Linked DNA regions of Homo sapiens: region 2 is linked to region 1. A link means that fine-mapping ties the variant in region 1 to the expression of a gene that starts in the linked region. Tissue or cell type: monocytes after LPS. Region 1 holds a variant in brackets; the other region holds the start of a gene. All regions are shown on one strand. Distances are between the middles of the regions.

What was found. PIP is the estimated chance that this variant, and not a neighbour inherited with it, causes the effect.
Region 2: it holds the start of REST, and the variant in region 1 is fine-mapped to the expression of REST in monocytes after LPS (Quach 2016, PIP 0.92).

The regions. Positions count from the first base shown.
Region 1 is chr4:56,877,550-56,886,176 of GRCh38, forward strand. No RefSeq gene overlaps it. Among named protein-coding and RNA genes, the nearest start is that of REST, 26 kb to the right of the region's middle. The variant A/G (reference allele first, on the strand shown) is at 4,715.
Region 2 is chr4:56,903,918-56,912,544 of GRCh38, forward strand. REST (RE1 silencing transcription factor) reads left to right here and starts at 3,983. Exons shown (of 4, transcript NM_005612.5): 1 at 3,983-4,296; 2 at 6,713-7,619. The coding sequence starts at 6,722. RefSeq lists enhancers at 3,440-4,369, 5,300-6,229 and silencers at 3,466-3,760, 3,860-4,249, 4,360-5,209.

The DNA of each region.
Region 1 (8,627 bases):
CCTATCTAGCTGTGCTTTTGCCTCCAGGAACCAACCTTTGGCTATTCCTCCCTTCCTATCCCCCTTCCCCAGGTGTAATAACTACTATTCTGCAACCTATTTTTTTTTTTGTTTTTGTTATTGTTGTTGTTTGAGACAGAGTCTCCCTCTCTCACCCAGGCTGCAGTGTAGTGGCCCAATGTAAGCTCACTGCAACCTCTACTTCCCAGGCTCAAGTGATTCTCAAGCTTCAGCCTCTCAAGTGGCTGGGACTACAGGCACATGCCACTATGCCTGGCTAATTTTTTGTATTTTTAGGAGAGATGGGGTTTCACCATGTTGGCCAAGCTGCTCTGGAACTCCTGGCTTCAACTCCCCCTTGGCCTCCCAAAGTGCTGGGATCACAGGCATGAGCCATCACACCCAGCCTCTACTCCCTACTTCTATGAGATCAACTACCCCCACCCCCGCGATGGAGTCTCACTCTGTCGCCCAGGCTGGAGTGCAGCGGCATGATCTCGGCTCACTGCAACCTCTGCCTCCCGGGTTTAAGTGATTCTCCTGCCTCAGCCTCCTGAGTAGCTGGGACTACAAGCTCACACCACCACGCCCAGCTATTTTTTGTATTTTTAGTAGAGACAGGGTTTCACCATTTTGGCCAAACTGGTCTCGAACTCCTGACCTCGTGATCCACCCGCCTCAACCTCCCAAAGTGGTGGGATTACAGGCATGAGCCACTGTGCCCAGCCCGAGATCAACTTTTTTGGCTTCCATGTATGAGTGAGAACATAGGGTATTTATTTTTCTGTGACTGGCTTATTTCATTTAAGTCCATTTTATTTCGACTTTCAGTTCAAGATGACCTTAAACTTGCTAGCAGACAAATTTTCAGTGATTATTCTCTAATGGATGGCACCTGACTACAGGCCAAATAAGTCAGGGAAAATATCAAGTAGGAATCTCTAAACATTCTTAAAGGGTCACCCCACCCCTCCCTACAGATACTGCTCTGCATTTGAGGCTTATGGATGGATTTCCTCCACAAAGTCACTGTTGCCTCTCCTGTAGGCCTATTCTGACCCAGCCTGCATTAAGCACCCCTTTCATGGGTCTCCTCAGATGTCATGCATTCTTTTCCCCCCAGCACTTCTAGAGATGCGTTTTCATCTTCCCACTGACTTATCAGTCTGTACTCTCCACTAAATTGTGAGCTTCTTTTTATCCCTAAGGCCTAGCAGGGAATTAGTCATGTGTCCACAAATATTTATTTGAATGGCTATTCTGTGCCAGGCACTGTGCTAGGTGCTGGAGTTGTAATGGTGACCAAAACAGCAAATACTGACATTATGGGATTTACAGTCTGTTAGGGGAATCAGTCATTAAAATAATACACAAATAACTAATTAATTAAGATGGTGCTTAGGGCCACTTAATCCAAGTACTGGGGGCTAACAGAGCATATATAGCTTTAGCAGGACTTGGTTGAGTTCAGATGAATGCTTCCTGGAGGATATGACATTTAAGCTGATTTCTGAAAAATGAAAGCAAGTTGCCCAAGCAAAGTGTGTCTGTGGTGAAATGGGGATAGGTGGGGTGCTGAGACCCAGAAGAACCCTTCAAGTAGTTGGAACAGCACACAGAAGGAGGCTGAAGCTGGAAGTGGTCAGTGTGGCTGAGCTGCTAAGAGAGGTCAAGATCAGGCAGTTCCTCATAGGCTTGTTAAGCAGTTCAAACATTGCTTTAAAAGAAATGTGGGCCTGCCAGGTGCGGTGGCTCACGCCTGTAACCCCAGCACTATGGGAGGCCAGGTGGGCAGATCATGAGGTCAGGAGTTCAAGACCAGCCTGGACAACATAGTGAAACCCCCATCTCTACTAAAAATACAAAAGTTAGGTGGGTGTGGTGGCACGCGCCTGTAGTTCCAGCTGCTTGGGAAGCTGAGGCTGAAGAATCGCTTGAACCTGGGAGGTGGAGGTTGCAGTGAGCCAAGACCGTGCCATTGCACTCTAGCCTGGGCAACAGAGCGAGACTCCATCTCAAAAAAAAAGAAAAAAAGAAAAGAAATGTGGACCGGGCGTGGTGGCTCATGCCTGCAATCCCAGCACTTTGGGAGGCCGAGGTGGGCGGATCACCTGAGGTCAGGAGTTCGAGACCAGCCTGGCTATCATGGTGAAAACCCGTTTCTACTAAAAATACAAAAAATTAGCAAGGCGTGATGGTGGCGTGTGCCTGTAATCCCAGCTACTCGGGAGGCTGAGGCAGGAGAATCACTGGAATGCAGGAGGTGGAGGTTGCAGTGAGCCGAGCTCGTGCCGTTGCACTCCAGCTTGGGCAACAAGAGTGAAGCTCTGTCTCAAAAAAAAAAAAAAAAAAGAAAGAAAGAAAGAAATGTGAAAGCACTGAGGAGATTTTAGCAGCGAATGATGTGATCAGATGATGAGATTTGGATTTCTGAAAGTTGATCTTTCTTAGGCTGCTAGAAGAAGAATGGAATGTAGAGAAGCAGGAATGGGCAAAGGGAGATTAGCTAAGGCAAGAGATAATGGTGGCTTCATGAGTGTATGTGGAGTGAATGAGAACCAAAGTGTAGGATGCAAGGCCTGGAAAGTCCCCAGAAATCCCATCTCAGTTAACTAGGAAACTGAGTCCCAGAGTGGAACCATAAATGACTCAGTGCATTACAGTTCATTCACAGCACAGTTAGGACTACAAACCAGTCGTGCACTTTGTGTCTTTTCCTCTTTTTTCGTGGACCTTCCCATGTGACTCAGCTAGTTTTTGAATTAAAAAAAAAAGCAGTGCTTTACCAAGTGATGGATATATAAAGTTCACTACACTATTCTCTCTACGTTGATATGTTTGAAAATGTCAATAGTAATCAGGTTTATAAGAAGCAACACTTTAAAACTGTTGTGGCATAGGTGCTAACTCAAGGCCTTCCAAACAGTTTGGGAAAGGAAAGAGGTCCAGGGCTTCTTGGCACTCACATCCTTACATGGCACTCAATAATCTGCATCTTGACTCAGCTGGGCTGTGTTTGGACCTATTGCCACAGTCATACACAATGCCAGATTGTTGGACTCCATGACACTTGCCTTGGAAGTGCACAGAACCTCTCTTTGGATCTTCTATAAAATGGGAGTCCATGCCTATGACACAAAGAATGTTGTGAGACTGAAGTGAGTATTTATAAGTCCCTGTCTGCCCCCCATTCCCCGATCAAATGAATGTTATTTCACAGAAACTTTCCTTGAAATTGGGTAATGTCACCACAGCTGTCTGCATAAACCACCAAGAGTGACCACATAGTTGTGGGGTTTTTTTGTTTTTTTTGTTTTTTTGGACAGAGTTTCGTACTTTTTGCCCAGACTGGACTGCAATGGTGCGATCTCAGCTCACCACAACCTCCGCCTCCCGGGTTCAAGGGGTTCTCCTGCCTCAGCCTCCCGAGTAGCTGGGATTATAGACATGTGCCACCATGCCCGGCTAATTTTGTATTTTTAGTAGTGACGGGGTTTCTCCATGTTGATCAGGCTGGTCTCGAACTCCCCACTTCAGGTGATCTGCCCACCTTGGCCTCCCAAAGTGCTGGGATTACAGGTGTGAGCCACCGTGCCTGGCTTTTTTTCTTTTTTTTTTTTTTTTGAGACAGAGTCTCTTTCTGTCACTCAAACTGGAGTGCAGTGGCATGATCTCGGCTCACTGCAACTTCCATCTCCTGGACTCAAGTGATTCTCATGCCTCAGCCTCCCAAGTAGCTGGGATTACAGGTGGCGCCACCATACCCAGCTAATTTTTGTATTTTTAGTAGAGACGGGGGTTCACCATGTTGGCCAGGCTGGCATAGTTGTCTATACATGATTTATATTACATGTTAACCTTAAAGAGAGTCTGTGTTTTTATTTTTATTTTTATTTAATTCAGGGATTGTTATTCGTGCTAAACCCTCACAACATAGAAAGCAAAGGTGACAATTTACAGTTGCTAAAACAGTGATGTGGAAGGTGGAGATTTGCTTTCGATCTGAAGTCTCTGGGTCTTGGAGGCTGGTGGTGGACAGTTAAAAAAACTAATCAGCTTTAGGCCGAGCGTGGTGGCTCACGCCTGTAATCCCAGCACTTTGGCAGGCCAAGGCAGGTGGATCACGAGGTCAGGAGATCAAGACCATCCTGGATAACACGGTGAAATGCCATCTCTACTAAAAATATAAAAAAATTAGCTGGGCATGGTGGTGGGCACCTGTAGTCCCAACTACTCGGGGGGCTGAGGCAGGAGAATGGCGTGAACCCGGGAGGCGGAGCTTGCAGTGAGCCGAGATCGCGCCACTGCACTCCAGCCTAGGAAACAGAGCGAGACTCCATCTCAGAAAAAATAAATAAATAAAAATTAATTAGCTTATTTTCAAGTGGCTGGTTGGCCTTCTTTAGAGAATGTGCTCAAGGAGGAGCTCTTCCAATAGAACCCTCAATTTTATCCTCTTCCCAATCTTTCTACTCCACATAGACGCTCTGGTATACAGAAGACATTTGACTAGTCACCTCTCCATTTCCTCTCCTTTAACACGTCCTTTTTATTCCAATCTTAAACCGGTGAGGGCAGATTCAAGGGGCAAATCTGGCATGTTACAACTACATAATAGTTGTTGAGGCCGGGGTGGCTCACGCTTGTAATCCCAGCACTTTGGGAGACCGAGGCGGGCGGATCACGAGGTCAGGAAATCGAGACCTTCCTGGCT[A/G]ACACAGTGAAACGCCATCTCTACTAAAAATACAAAAAGAAATCAGCTGGGCGTGGTGGCCGGCACCTGTAGTCCCAGCTACTCCAGAGGCTGAGGCAGAAGAATGGCGTGAACCCGGGAGACGGAGCTTGCAGTGAGCCGAGATCGCCCCACTGCACTCCAGCCTGGGCGATAGAGCAAGACTCTGTCTCAAAAAAAAAAAAAAAAAAAAAAGTTGTTGAGCGAATGAAGCAATGAGTAAGCAAATGTGAGCTCTATAATTTTTTTTTTTTTTTTTTTTTTTTTGAGACGGAGTCTCGCTTTTGTCTCCCAGGCTGCAGTGCAATTGCGTGATCTCGGCTTACTGCAACCTCCGCCTCCCAGGCTCAAGCGATTCTCCTGTCGCAGCCTCTAAGTAGCTGGGATTACAGGCATCCACCACCACACCCAGCTAATTTTTTGTATTTTTAGTAGAGACAGGGTTTCATGATGTTGACCTTGACCTTGCTTGGTCTTTTTTTCTTTTTTTTTTTTTGAGAGGAAGTCTCATTATGATGCCCTAGGCTGATCTGGAACTCTTGGGCTCAAGTGATCCTCCAGCCTCAGCCTCGCAAAGTGCTGAGATTACAGGCATGTGCAACCGCACCCAGGCTGCGACAATCATTTCTAAGTGAATCAAACATGTCTACAGGATTACAAGAATTTATGAAAATGTTAGAACCTGAAAGTTGTTTATTTTGGTGGCTCCAAAATTTGAAAGGTAAACTGTAAGACAGAAATTAGTAAAGATTTAATAAAATGTCTATAAAATACATTATGTCAGCTAACTTAGTCATAGATTTAGCATTTATAAAAATGTCATTATATTTCAGAAAAAAAAGTTACACTTTCCCACTTCCAAGATATCCTAAATAGGTAGAACAATTATTGAGAAATTATTGCTGGTAAATTAAAGAAGTTACTTATAGCCAAGTATTTTTAATAGAAAAAGATGTTACATTATTGCAAATAAATAAATATATTTGTATACTATGTATGTATATGTATATATATTTTATGTGGGTGGGTGCATTTGAAAATGATTGGTAGGATCTTCAAAATTAAGACAGCTGGGGGCCTAGGAGGCCTAGGCAGGTCTCTCACAGAATGCCTTAGCAGTGACATAGGTTGGTTACATATACTATGGGAAAAAAAAGAAAAAATAGATCAAGACTGCAGTGAGCCATGTCCACAACACTGCACTCCAGCCTGTCCAGCATTGTGACAGAGTGAGACCCTATCTCAAAAAAAAAAAAAAAAGATGTTATGATCTTAGCCGGCCAACCTCAACTTCTCACATATGTAATCACAGCACATTGGAAGGCCAAAGTGGGAGGATTACTTGAGGCCAGGAGTTCCAGACCAGCCTGGGAAATAAAGCGAGAACCCCTCTCTACAAAAAATTAAAAAATTAGCTCAACTGGGCACGGTGGTTCACTCCTGTAATTCCAGAACTTTGGGAGGCTGAGGCAGATGGATCACAGGGTCAAGAGTTCGAGACCAGCCTAACCAACATGATGAAACCCTGTCTCTACTAAAAATATAAAAAAGAATTAGCTGGGTGTGGTGGCGCATGCCTGTAATCCCAGCCACTCAGGAGGCTGAGGCAGGAGAATCACTTAAACCCCGGAGGTGGAGGTTGCAGTGAGCCAAGATCGTGCCACTGCACTCCATCCTGGGCAGTGGAGGGAGACTCTGTCTCAAAACAAACAAACAAACAAACAAAAAACTTAGCTAAGCATGATGGGGTGGCTCATTCCTGTATTCCTAGATACTAGGGAGGCAGAAGGATTGCTTGAGTCTAGGTGTTCGAGGCTGCAGTGAGCCATGATTGTGCCACTGCACTGAGCTTGGGTGACAGAGCAAGAGACTGTCTCAAAAAAAATTTTTTTAGCCAAATAAATAAATAAAATAATTATACTTATTATAATAAAAAGTTCAGACAGTCTCCAGTCTGGGCAACAGAGTGAGACTCTGTCTCAAAAAAAAAAAAAGGTTCAGACAGTAAGAAAAGTATTATTTGAAAGTAGAAGTCTAGTGGGTTCCAAGATGGCCAAATAGGAAAAGCTCTGGTCTACAGCTCCCGCATGATCGATGCAGAAGACGGGTGATTTCTGCATTTCCAATTGAGGTACCTGGTTCATCTCATTGGGACTGGTTGGACAGTGGGTACAGCCCAAGGAGGGTGAGTCAAAGCAGGGTGGGGCATTGCCTCACTTGGGAAGTGCAAGGGGTTGGGGGATTTCCCTTTCCTGCCAAGGGAAGCCATGACAGACTGTACCTGGAAAAACAGGACACTCCTACCAAAATACTGCACTTTTCCCAAGGTCTTAGCAACCTGCAGTCAAGGAGATTCCCCACACCCACAAAGACTTGCTCACTGCTAGCACAGCAGTCTGAGATCAAACTTCAAGGTGGCAGCCTGGCTGGGGGAGGGGCGTCCGCCATTGCTGAGGCTTGAGTAGGTAAACAAAGCGGCTGAGAAGCTCAAACTGAGTGGAGCCCACCACAGCTCAGCAAAGCCTACTGTCTCTATAGACTCCACCTCTGTGGGCAGGGCATAGCTGAACAAAAGGCAGCAAACAACTTCTGGAGACTTAAACATCCCTGTCTCACAGCTCTGAAGAGAGCAGTCATTCTCCCAGCACGGCGTTTGAGCTCTGAGAACAGACAGATTGCCTCCTCAAGTGGGTCCCTGACCCCCGTGTAGCCTAAGTGGGAGACACCTCCCAGTAGGGGCTGACAAACACCTCATATAGGCGGATGCCCCTCTGGGACGAAGCTTCCAGAGGAAGGATCAGGCAGCAATATTTGCTGTTCTGCAGCCTCCGCTGGTGATAATAACCAGGCAAACAGGTTCTGGAGCGGACCTCCAGCAAACTCCAACAGACTTGCAGCTGAGGGACCTGACTATTAGAAGGAAAACTAACAAACAAAAAGGAATAGCATCAACATCAACAAAAAGGATATCTACACCAAAACCCCATCTGTAGGTCACCAACATCAAACACCAAAGGTAGATAAAACCACAAAGATGGGGAGAAACCAGAGCAGAAAAGCTGAAAATTCTAAAAACCAGAGCGCCTCTTTTCTTCCAAAGGATTGCAGCTCCTCGCCAGCAATGGAAGAAAGCTGGACAGAGAATGACTTTGACGAGTTGACAGAAGTAGGCTTCAGAAGGTCAGTAATAACAAACTTCTCTGAGCTAAAGGAGCATATTCTAACCCATTGCAAGGAAGCTAAAAACCTTGAAAAAGCCGGGTGCGGTGGCTCACGCCTGTAATCCCAGCACTTTGGGAGGCCGAGGCGGGTGGATCATGAGGTCAGGAGATCGAGACCATCCTGGTTAACACGATGAAACCCCGTCTCTACTAAAAATACAAAAAAATTAGCCGGGCGTGATGGTGGGCGCCTGTAGTCCCAGCTACTCGGGAGGCTGAGGCAGGAGAATGGCGTGAACCCGGGAGGCTGAGCTTGCAGTGAGCCGAGATCGCGCCACGGCACTCCAGCCTGGGTGACAGAGCGAGACTCCGTCTCAAAAAAAAAACCTTGAAAAAGGGTTAGATGAATGGCTGACTAGAATAAACAGTGTAGAGAAGACCTTAAATGACCTGATGAAGCTGAAAACCATGGCACAAGAACTTCGTGATGCATGCACAAGCTTCAATAGCTGAATCAATCAAGTGGAAGAAAGGGTATCAGTGATTGAAGATCAAATTAATGAAATAAAGCTAGAAGACAAGGTTAGAGAAAAAAGAGTAAAAAGAAACAAACAAAGCCTCCAAGAAATATGGGACTATGTGAAAAGACCAAATCTACATCTGATTGGTGTACCTGAAAGTGATGGGGAGAATGGAACAAAGTTGGAAAACACTCTTCAGGATATTATCCAGGA
Region 2 (8,627 bases), 26 kb after region 1:
GTCAGGCTGGTCTAGAACTCTCGACTTCAGGTGATCTGCCTGCCTCAGCCTCCCAAAGTGCTGGGATTACAGGCGTGAGCCACCGCACCTGGCCAAAACAGATTGTTAATGATCACCAAGGAATATCCAACCAGAGGCTGATGCGTGAAATCAGGAATGTGCTAGGAATACAATATGCAGAAGAGCAGGCAGGGAGATTTTCACCAGGAGGGTAGAACCCCAAGACCAGGGATCCAGGAGCATTAATTTATTTAACAGTAGTTATTAGGGAGATTCAAGGAGGCAGGCTCATGCTTAACATGAGGGAAGACTGTGATGGGTACTGAACGTTGGGTACCGACATGGGTAAGGATGGTCCCCACTTTGAGAGATTGTGATACCAAGCTAGGATTTTGTAACCATTCATCTAACTAATATTTGTTGAGCAACTAACGAGTTATAGGTGCTGGGGATAAAAAAATGTCTCTGCCTTTCTGGAGCTTAAGTTCCTAAGTAGGGTAAATAAATAAAAATACCTAGCATGTTAGTAATAAATGTTAGAGACAGAAACAGCAGGGAAGGGCATTAGGATTGGACGAAAATGGGAGCAGAAACAGCAGGGAAGGGCATTAGGATTGGACGAAAATGGGAGCGGGTTCCAAATGTGATCTAGGCTCCAAAAGAAGGCAGGAAGGAGCCCAGCTCAAGTCTCAAGTTCTCTTGTTCACCTCCTTCCCTTCTCAGCATGAAGGGAAAACCTCCCTGGCTCAAGCTGTTGATGCCTATAATGAGTAAGACACTATTCCAGTTATCAGAACCAGAACAAGAGGTCAGAGTCCAACCGGCAGCAAGAGTAGATGATGCTGGCTGGACTCGGTGGCTTACACAGGTAATCCCAGCACTTTGGGAGGCCGAGGCGGGTGGATCACCTCAGGTCAGGAGTTCGAGACTAGCCTGACCAACATAGTGAAACCCCATCTCTACTAAAATACAAAAATTAGCTGGGCGTCCTAGCGGGTGCCTGTAATCTCAGCTACTCGGGAGGCTGAGGCAGGAGAATTGCTTGAACCCAGGAGGCAGAGGTTCCAGTGAGCCAAGATCTTGCCACTGCATTCTAGCCTGGGCGACAGAGCAAGACTCCCAGGCGGGGTGGCTCACACCTGTAATCCTAGCACTTTGGGAGGCCCAGGCAGGTGGATCATCTGAGGTCAAGAGTTCAAGACCAGCCTGGCCAACATGGTGAAACACCATCTCTACTAAAAATACAAAAATTAGCCAGACAAGGTGGCACGTGCCTGTAATCCTAGCTACTCGGGAGGCTGAGGCAGGAGAATCACTTGAACCCGGGAGGTGGAGGTTGCAGTGAGCCGAGATCGCACCTTTGCATTCCAGCCTGGGTGACAGAGCAAGACTCCATGTCAAAAAAAAAAATAATATATATATATATATATAATTGGCCAGGTGTGGTGGCTCACGCCTGTAATCCCAGAACTTTGGGAAGCCGAGGCAGGCGGATCACCTGAGGTTGGGAGTTCGAGACCAGCCTGACCAACATGGAGAAACCCCCGTCTCTAACTAAAAATACAAAATTAGCTTGGCGTGGTGGCACATGCCTGTAATCCCAGCTACTCGGGAGGCTGAGGCAGGAGAATTGCTTGAACCCGGGAGGCGGAGGTTGCGGTGAGCCGAGATCGTGCTATTGCACTCCAGCCTGGGCAAAAAGAGCCAAATTCTGTCTCAAAAAAAAAAAAAAAAAAAAAAAGAAAGAAATCTCTCTAGAGAAAATACTATTAAGAACATATGATAATTAAAATAAAAAAATTGATGAGTTAAATATGCAGGAAAAAAACCATATAAGAAAAGCAGAACTCATTCTCATTTCAGAGTTTTTATCTTGCAGAAGATCCTAAAGTTTGGATACAGCAAAGTAAAATACAGACTTTTGAAAAACAGTTAGGAATTCAAGTTCATAGCAACAGCTTCCCTCAAGAAAATTTTCAATTGATTTGTAATTTGGCCTATGAATTTGACCTGTGGCCTTCATGTCATGATAATTTGGGTCACTCTGAATATGCCATCCCTTGAACAAGGGCCTCTGCTAATTTTAAATGAATGCAGCTGCCCATTCGCCATTCTTCTATTTGCATCACAATATGTGGGAATAAATTTGCAATTAATAAGACATTTCCAGTAAGCAGTCAGATTGAGGAAATGAAGGACATTTAGTAAGTTTAACAAGAGACATTTCATTTTTGCCTTTTTGGACCTAAAAAAGGGAAAGAAAACAAGTTTATGTCTTTGACAACCTTGGTAGAGGCCTGAATTGTACCCTGGGCTACAGCATCTAAAAAAGCCATGTGACCTCAAACTTGATTTTAGTTAAACAAATAAAATATATATAGAAAAGTTTGTACCAGTCCTAAAAATGTCGATCTTCCTTTCCTCCCTCCCTCCCTCCCTTCCTTCCTGTCTCTTTGGTTCAATGAAAATGAATACTTTTCAGGTTTGATTCATGGAGAGGTGTTACATTTGAAATTGCCTCATTGAAACTTTTGGTGGTCGAGCACCTTAGGGTCTTCATTTCATCTTGCATCGGAGACTGCATTAATTAGTAATATATTGTCCAGATAGAGGGAAACAGAGGTCCTACGTGGGTATACCAGGAAATGAAGAGTCTGGAAGCCCTGCCCTAAGAGAAACAAATAAAGGAACTTCAAAGAGAAGGAAGTGAGGTACCCTGAGGAGAAGCTGGGATGTCTTAACAACTGCTTTGGGATTTTGAGCTTGCCCTTTTCACTGTGTAGAGTGTTCCTTGCCCTACTTTCCACCTGTTGAAGTTTTCCTCATTCTCCAAGGTCAGACTGAATACATCTACTGTGAAAAGTTTCTAGAACCTCTTGGGATCCATCTTCCTACTGGCAAACCCCCATAGCACTTGCTACTTATGTTGTAATACCAAGCAATAGTCAGACTTATCTAGGTCAAGTTAAGTAGGGGCTTGAACGCCACACTAAGGGGTTTAAGCTTTAAGCTTGTAGTCATGGGGAGCCACTATGCTTCTGAGGACAGGTGTGACTTACGACTGACGTTTAGGAAGGTATCAAAGGCAGACTGAGAAGCTCTTTCAGGTGTGAAAGGGGGTGGAATTACTCTCTCTCTGTTCTTTTTTGTTGTTTTTGTTTTTGTTAGCACATGACTATGGGCTAGGCATTCCGCTTGGTTATCCCGCTTCATAGACGTGAGCCCGGTTACTCCGACACACCGTGGCCCCAGGCAGCCTCCCCGTCCTCACCACCTTTTCTTCTGTCATCTGAGGGTAATTCCTCCCCTGCAGTCGTGCTTTCCGGGCTCAGCAATGACCTGCTACCTGCCACGTCTAGGGATCTGTCCCCTCAGTCCTCACGCTCACGCTTTCTGAGTCCATAACCTCCTTCCTGAAACGTTTTCTTCTCACTTCTCCCAAACTGACTGCATTCCCCCTCCGGTAGTTTGAAATTTGGAAGACTTTTTTTTTTTTTTTTTTTTTTTACCGCAGACGCTTAAAACGAAGCTTAATTAGTCAAGGACAGCTATGGGTGGAGACTTGAAGAGATCTGAAGGGTATCTTGGAGCGCTTTAGACTTGAGAGGCCGGTGACAATAGCTCTAAAGAGACCCGTCAAAGCCTGCGGATTCTTCTTTTAACAGCTCTATTCTCATGCATGCACGCCAGGGCTGGGGGGAACTTTTGTTGTTTGTTTGTAATAGAAATCGAGAAAGGGAGTGGGGCCCGCCTCTTTTCTGACCTAAGGGCAGGAGTGAGGGGCCGGGAGGATTACGGGCGGCTCCCCCTAGACGCGCCCCCAGGCGAGCTGGAGACTGGGGCACTCCTTGCTTGGTAGAGGGGCGGGGCGCGCCTAGCGGCCACGCGCGCGGGCGTCGGAGGGGGCGTGTCTCGCGGGCGCGCGCGGGCGTCGGAGGGGGCGTGTCCCGCGGGCGGTGGCGGCGGCGGCGGCGCGGACTGGGTGCGCGGCGCAGCGTCCTGTGTTGGAATGTGCGGCTGCCGCGAGCTCGCGGCGCAGCAGCGGAGCGAGCGCCGCCGAGGCCCGGGGCCCCAGACCCTGGCGGCGGCTGCCGCAGCCGAGACGGCAGGGCGAGGCCCGGAGGCCTGAGCACCCTCTGCAGCCCCACTCCTGGGCCTTCTTGGTCCACGACGGCCCCAGCACCCAACTTTACCACCCTCCCCCACCTCTCCCCCGAAACTCCAGCAACAAAGAAAAGTAGTCGGAGAAGGAGCGGCGACTCAGGGTCGCCCGCCCCTCCTCACCGAGGAAGGCCGGTAAGTGGGGCGCTGGGCTGGGGGCTCGGTCAGGGTGGGGGAGGGCCGCCCGGGCGGCGGCAGTGGCGGGACGGGGAGGGCGCGGAAGGACGCGGAGTCAGGCGCTGTCCAGGGCTGATTTGCAGATACTGTGGCTCCGGCGGCGGCGGCCCCGCCGGGCGGGGGCTGGCGGCCGAGCAGGATCGGGTTACACAGCAGCCGCCCGGGGGCTGGGGGCGTTTGTTGGGAGCAGCGCGTCGCCTGGACCCCCTCCCCACTGGAGGCTGGGACGCCGCCTCCGCGCTGGCCCGGACGCTCCACCGAGTCAGGTCCTTTGAGGCCAAGGAGCGGAGCTGCTCGGGCCCGTAGTCCTGAAACTTCCTCTGCTTCCTCCTCCTGCCCCCGGGTCCCACCGCAGCCCCGCGCCGGCCCGCGGCCCTCCTGGCCCCCTCCCCCAGGGCCTCTCCCTGTCGCCGGAAGGCGCCGTTGAGTGCGGCCGGGCGGGTTGAGTCAGCCCCGGGGCCCGGGCGGTTCCGCCTGCGGGGCTGGACAGCGATTTCTGCGCTTCAGCCGTCCGGCGCCGCTGGCCCCCGCGTCCGGCCACCCGACCGCTGGAGCTGGCGGGGCTGGGGCGCGCGTCCTGCCGGGCGCCGTGGGGGAGTGAAGTTCGCAAACTTCCGGGGCGCGGGGGTGGCGGCTGGCCCGTGTGGGGGCCCCCTCCGGCGCTCGGAGCCCGACGCCTCGCGAGGGCGCCCGCGGAGCCTCCCCGGCCCTGGGCGTTGGGCGAGCCCCGGGGCGGTCGGAGGGGCCCGGGGGCGGTCGGAGAAGCCCGGACGCCGGCTGCGCGGTAACTTTCCGTCCTCTCCCGGGACGGGGGCCCTAGGGCTGGGGAGGGGGCTGCCTGGACTCGGGGAGGACTGGTTCCGGCCAAACAGCGCCTCGAGCTTGATCCCCTCCCCCGTTTTAGTGTTGGAGAGCGCAGGAAAAGGCTCAGGACGAGTGTCGGGGCGACTCCCGCGAGTTGGTGTGTAAATGTGTGCAGTGAGCGGGCCGAGGCGAGAGGAAGCGAGAGCGCCCGAGTTTGCAAAGAGCTGCTTTGTGTTTGGTATTTTGAGAAAATGGCCGAATGCCTATTTCAGTTAGGAATGCCGCCGCCGAGGCAGGCGCTGGTGGCAGCAGCACGGAGGAATTCGTGCAGCACGTTGGGCTTTCGGGCTGTGCCTGGACGGTCTTCCTAACAATCGTTAAAATTCCATTTGGGGTGGCAGTTAGGGGTTAGGGAGCAATTAGAAAAGTCGATGTTGGGCCAAATTACCCAATAGCTTGGGCTGTTCAGCCCCGGGACAGCCTTCGCCCTCTGTTTTCTGTGATGGCATTTGCTTCCAACTTTTGTTGGTACGTAGAACTAAACCGGTTTGTGTTTATACACTTGGGTGAAGCGGGTTACTTTTTGTATTTTCGGTTTAACTTTATTTTCTTAGAACTTCTTACTTTTTTTAATTTGCGAGTGAACACTTCGTTTGAGAATGGCACCTTTTAGATTGAGAAGTAACGTAGCATCTAGAAAGCCCAACTTGTTTTGAAGAAGGTGATCTTGTAATGGCTTCCACTAGGCAAGTAGGCCAAGTCAAGCACAATGCAAGAAAGTTGCTGATTGTCGAGTTGAGTTGCACGATGATTTTATTCGTATTGAAAAGCTTGGAATTCAGTGTTGTGGAACTTCAGCCTGCAGAAAAATAAGCTTATTAATTTTTATTTGTGAAGTTTTGAATAAATCAAACTTCCTTTTTCACAAGAAAAGGGGTCCATAAATGTTTTTTCTTTTAAGCCTGTGGAGTTGTCGAAAAATTAAGGGGCTGACTGCTACTTTTTCACAGTAGTTTATTCTTTTGGAGTTAGTTGAGTTCATGCGAAATCCAATTAAGTTGAACAATTATTACAGGCTTGTACTTTCCAGATGTGTTTGTGTACTTAATAAATGCACTGAATGGCTTGTGGATTTCTGGGCTTTCTGATTCAGACCATTGAACTGTTGAAGGGGGGAAAAGTTGGGAGGACAATAATTTACTACTCATGTTTTGAATTTTTAAAATAATTTTAACAGTAAAAATGAAGGTTACTTTTTATCCCCACCAGAACAATTAAAAGTGCTTGAGGAGGCACCACATGCCAGTGGCTGAATGATGAATGAGTTGTGCAAACAATTGGTAGAATTGTTTTATAGGGATAGTAGAAATTTTTTTTTGGTGATTGCAGTAGACTATTGGGAATTAACAACTATTTTAAAGATTTGTTTTTAATAGGCGATGAAGTTTACTGAGTTATAAAGATCATACTGGAAAATTTTTAAGTTATGAAGAATTACAGCGATGTGGTTTTAAGCCAGTAACAGTAGTGTTTAAACTGGTGCTCTTGTTTTGTTTTGTTTTTAATTCAGAATACAGTTATGGCCACCCAGGTAATGGGGCAGTCTTCTGGAGGAGGAGGGCTGTTTACCAGCAGTGGCAACATTGGAATGGCCCTGCCTAACGACATGTATGACTTGCATGACCTTTCCAAAGCTGAACTGGCCGCACCTCAGCTTATTATGCTGGCAAATGTGGCCTTAACTGGGGAAGTAAATGGCAGCTGCTGTGATTACCTGGTCGGTGAAGAAAGACAGATGGCAGAACTGATGCCGGTTGGGGATAACAACTTTTCAGATAGTGAAGAAGGAGAAGGACTTGAAGAGTCTGCTGATATAAAAGGTGAACCTCATGGACTGGAAAACATGGAACTGAGAAGTTTGGAACTCAGCGTCGTAGAACCTCAGCCTGTATTTGAGGCATCAGGTGCTCCAGATATTTACAGTTCAAATAAAGATCTTCCCCCTGAAACACCTGGAGCGGAGGACAAAGGCAAGAGCTCGAAGACCAAACCCTTTCGCTGTAAGCCATGCCAATATGAAGCAGAATCTGAAGAACAGTTTGTGCATCACATCAGAGTTCACAGTGCTAAGAAATTTTTTGTGGAAGAGAGTGCAGAGAAGCAGGCAAAAGCCAGGGAATCTGGCTCTTCCACTGCAGAAGAGGGAGATTTCTCCAAGGGCCCCATTCGCTGTGACCGCTGCGGCTACAATACTAATCGATATGATCACTATACAGCACACCTGAAACACCACACCAGAGCTGGGGATAATGAGCGAGTCTACAAGTGTATCATTTGCACATACACAACAGTGAGCGAGTATCACTGGAGGAAACATTTAAGAAACCATTTTCCAAGGAAAGTATACACATGTGGAAAATGCAACTATTTTTCAGACAGAAAAAACAATTATGTTCAGCATGTTAGAACTCATACAGGTAAGAGAAGCTTTCTAGTCCATAAGTTCAGTTCTCTTTTCTGATTGTTACTTGAGTGGTTAGTTAAGTAGTGCTTGAGAAAAAGGACTCTGGTTCAAATCCAGGTTCCATTTTGCTATCTTTGTGACCTTGCACAAGTTGTTTAACCTCTTTGTTCAGAAATTTCTCCATGGAGTAACAATATCTAGGTTGGGAGGATTATGTGAAGTTACATGTAAAGCACAGAGGAACAGCCAAGAGATCTTACCGTGGTCTTACTAAAGTACATATCCTAACTTGGGGTTTACCTTCAGCAAGTTAGACTGGCCGTGCATGGTGGCTCACGCCTGTAATCCCAGCACCTCGGGAGGCCGAGGCGTAAGGACTGCCTGAGCCCAGAAGTTCTAGACCAGTCTGGGAAACGTGGAAAGACCCCCGTCTCAAAAAGAAAACAGAAAAAAAAAAGTTTGTGTATTTATTTCTGTGACAGTGAACACATTTAAGATGCAGTGTAGTTTCTGAAAGAAATTGAGGGCTTATATAAAAAGGAAAACTCAGTGATTAACCTTGCACATGCCCACTTAACAAAAGCCTCAAACTTTAAAACATTTGACTTATAGCATTGAGTTCCTAAATGGAACAACTTGTCTTTGTCCACAAAAAAGAAATGTGAGAAGGTAGTTTTTAAAAGGTGGGTGGGATTATCACCAATTGAAACTATTTTCCTATGAAAGCAAACACTTGTAGAAAATGTATTTTTCAGACAATTATGTTTAGGGTGTTTGAACTGATACTAAGCGCAACTGTATAAAAAAAGTTGAAACTTTTTTTTTTTTTTTTTTTTTGAGACAGTCTGGCTTTGTCGCCCAGGCTGGAGTGCAGTGGCAAGATCTCAGCTCAGTGTAACCTCTGCCTCAGGGTTCAAGTGATTATCTTGCTTCAGCCTCCCTGGCTCAGCCTCCCGAGTAGCTGGGATTACAGGCACCCACCACCGTGCCTGGCTAATTTTTTTTTTTTGAGACGGAGTCT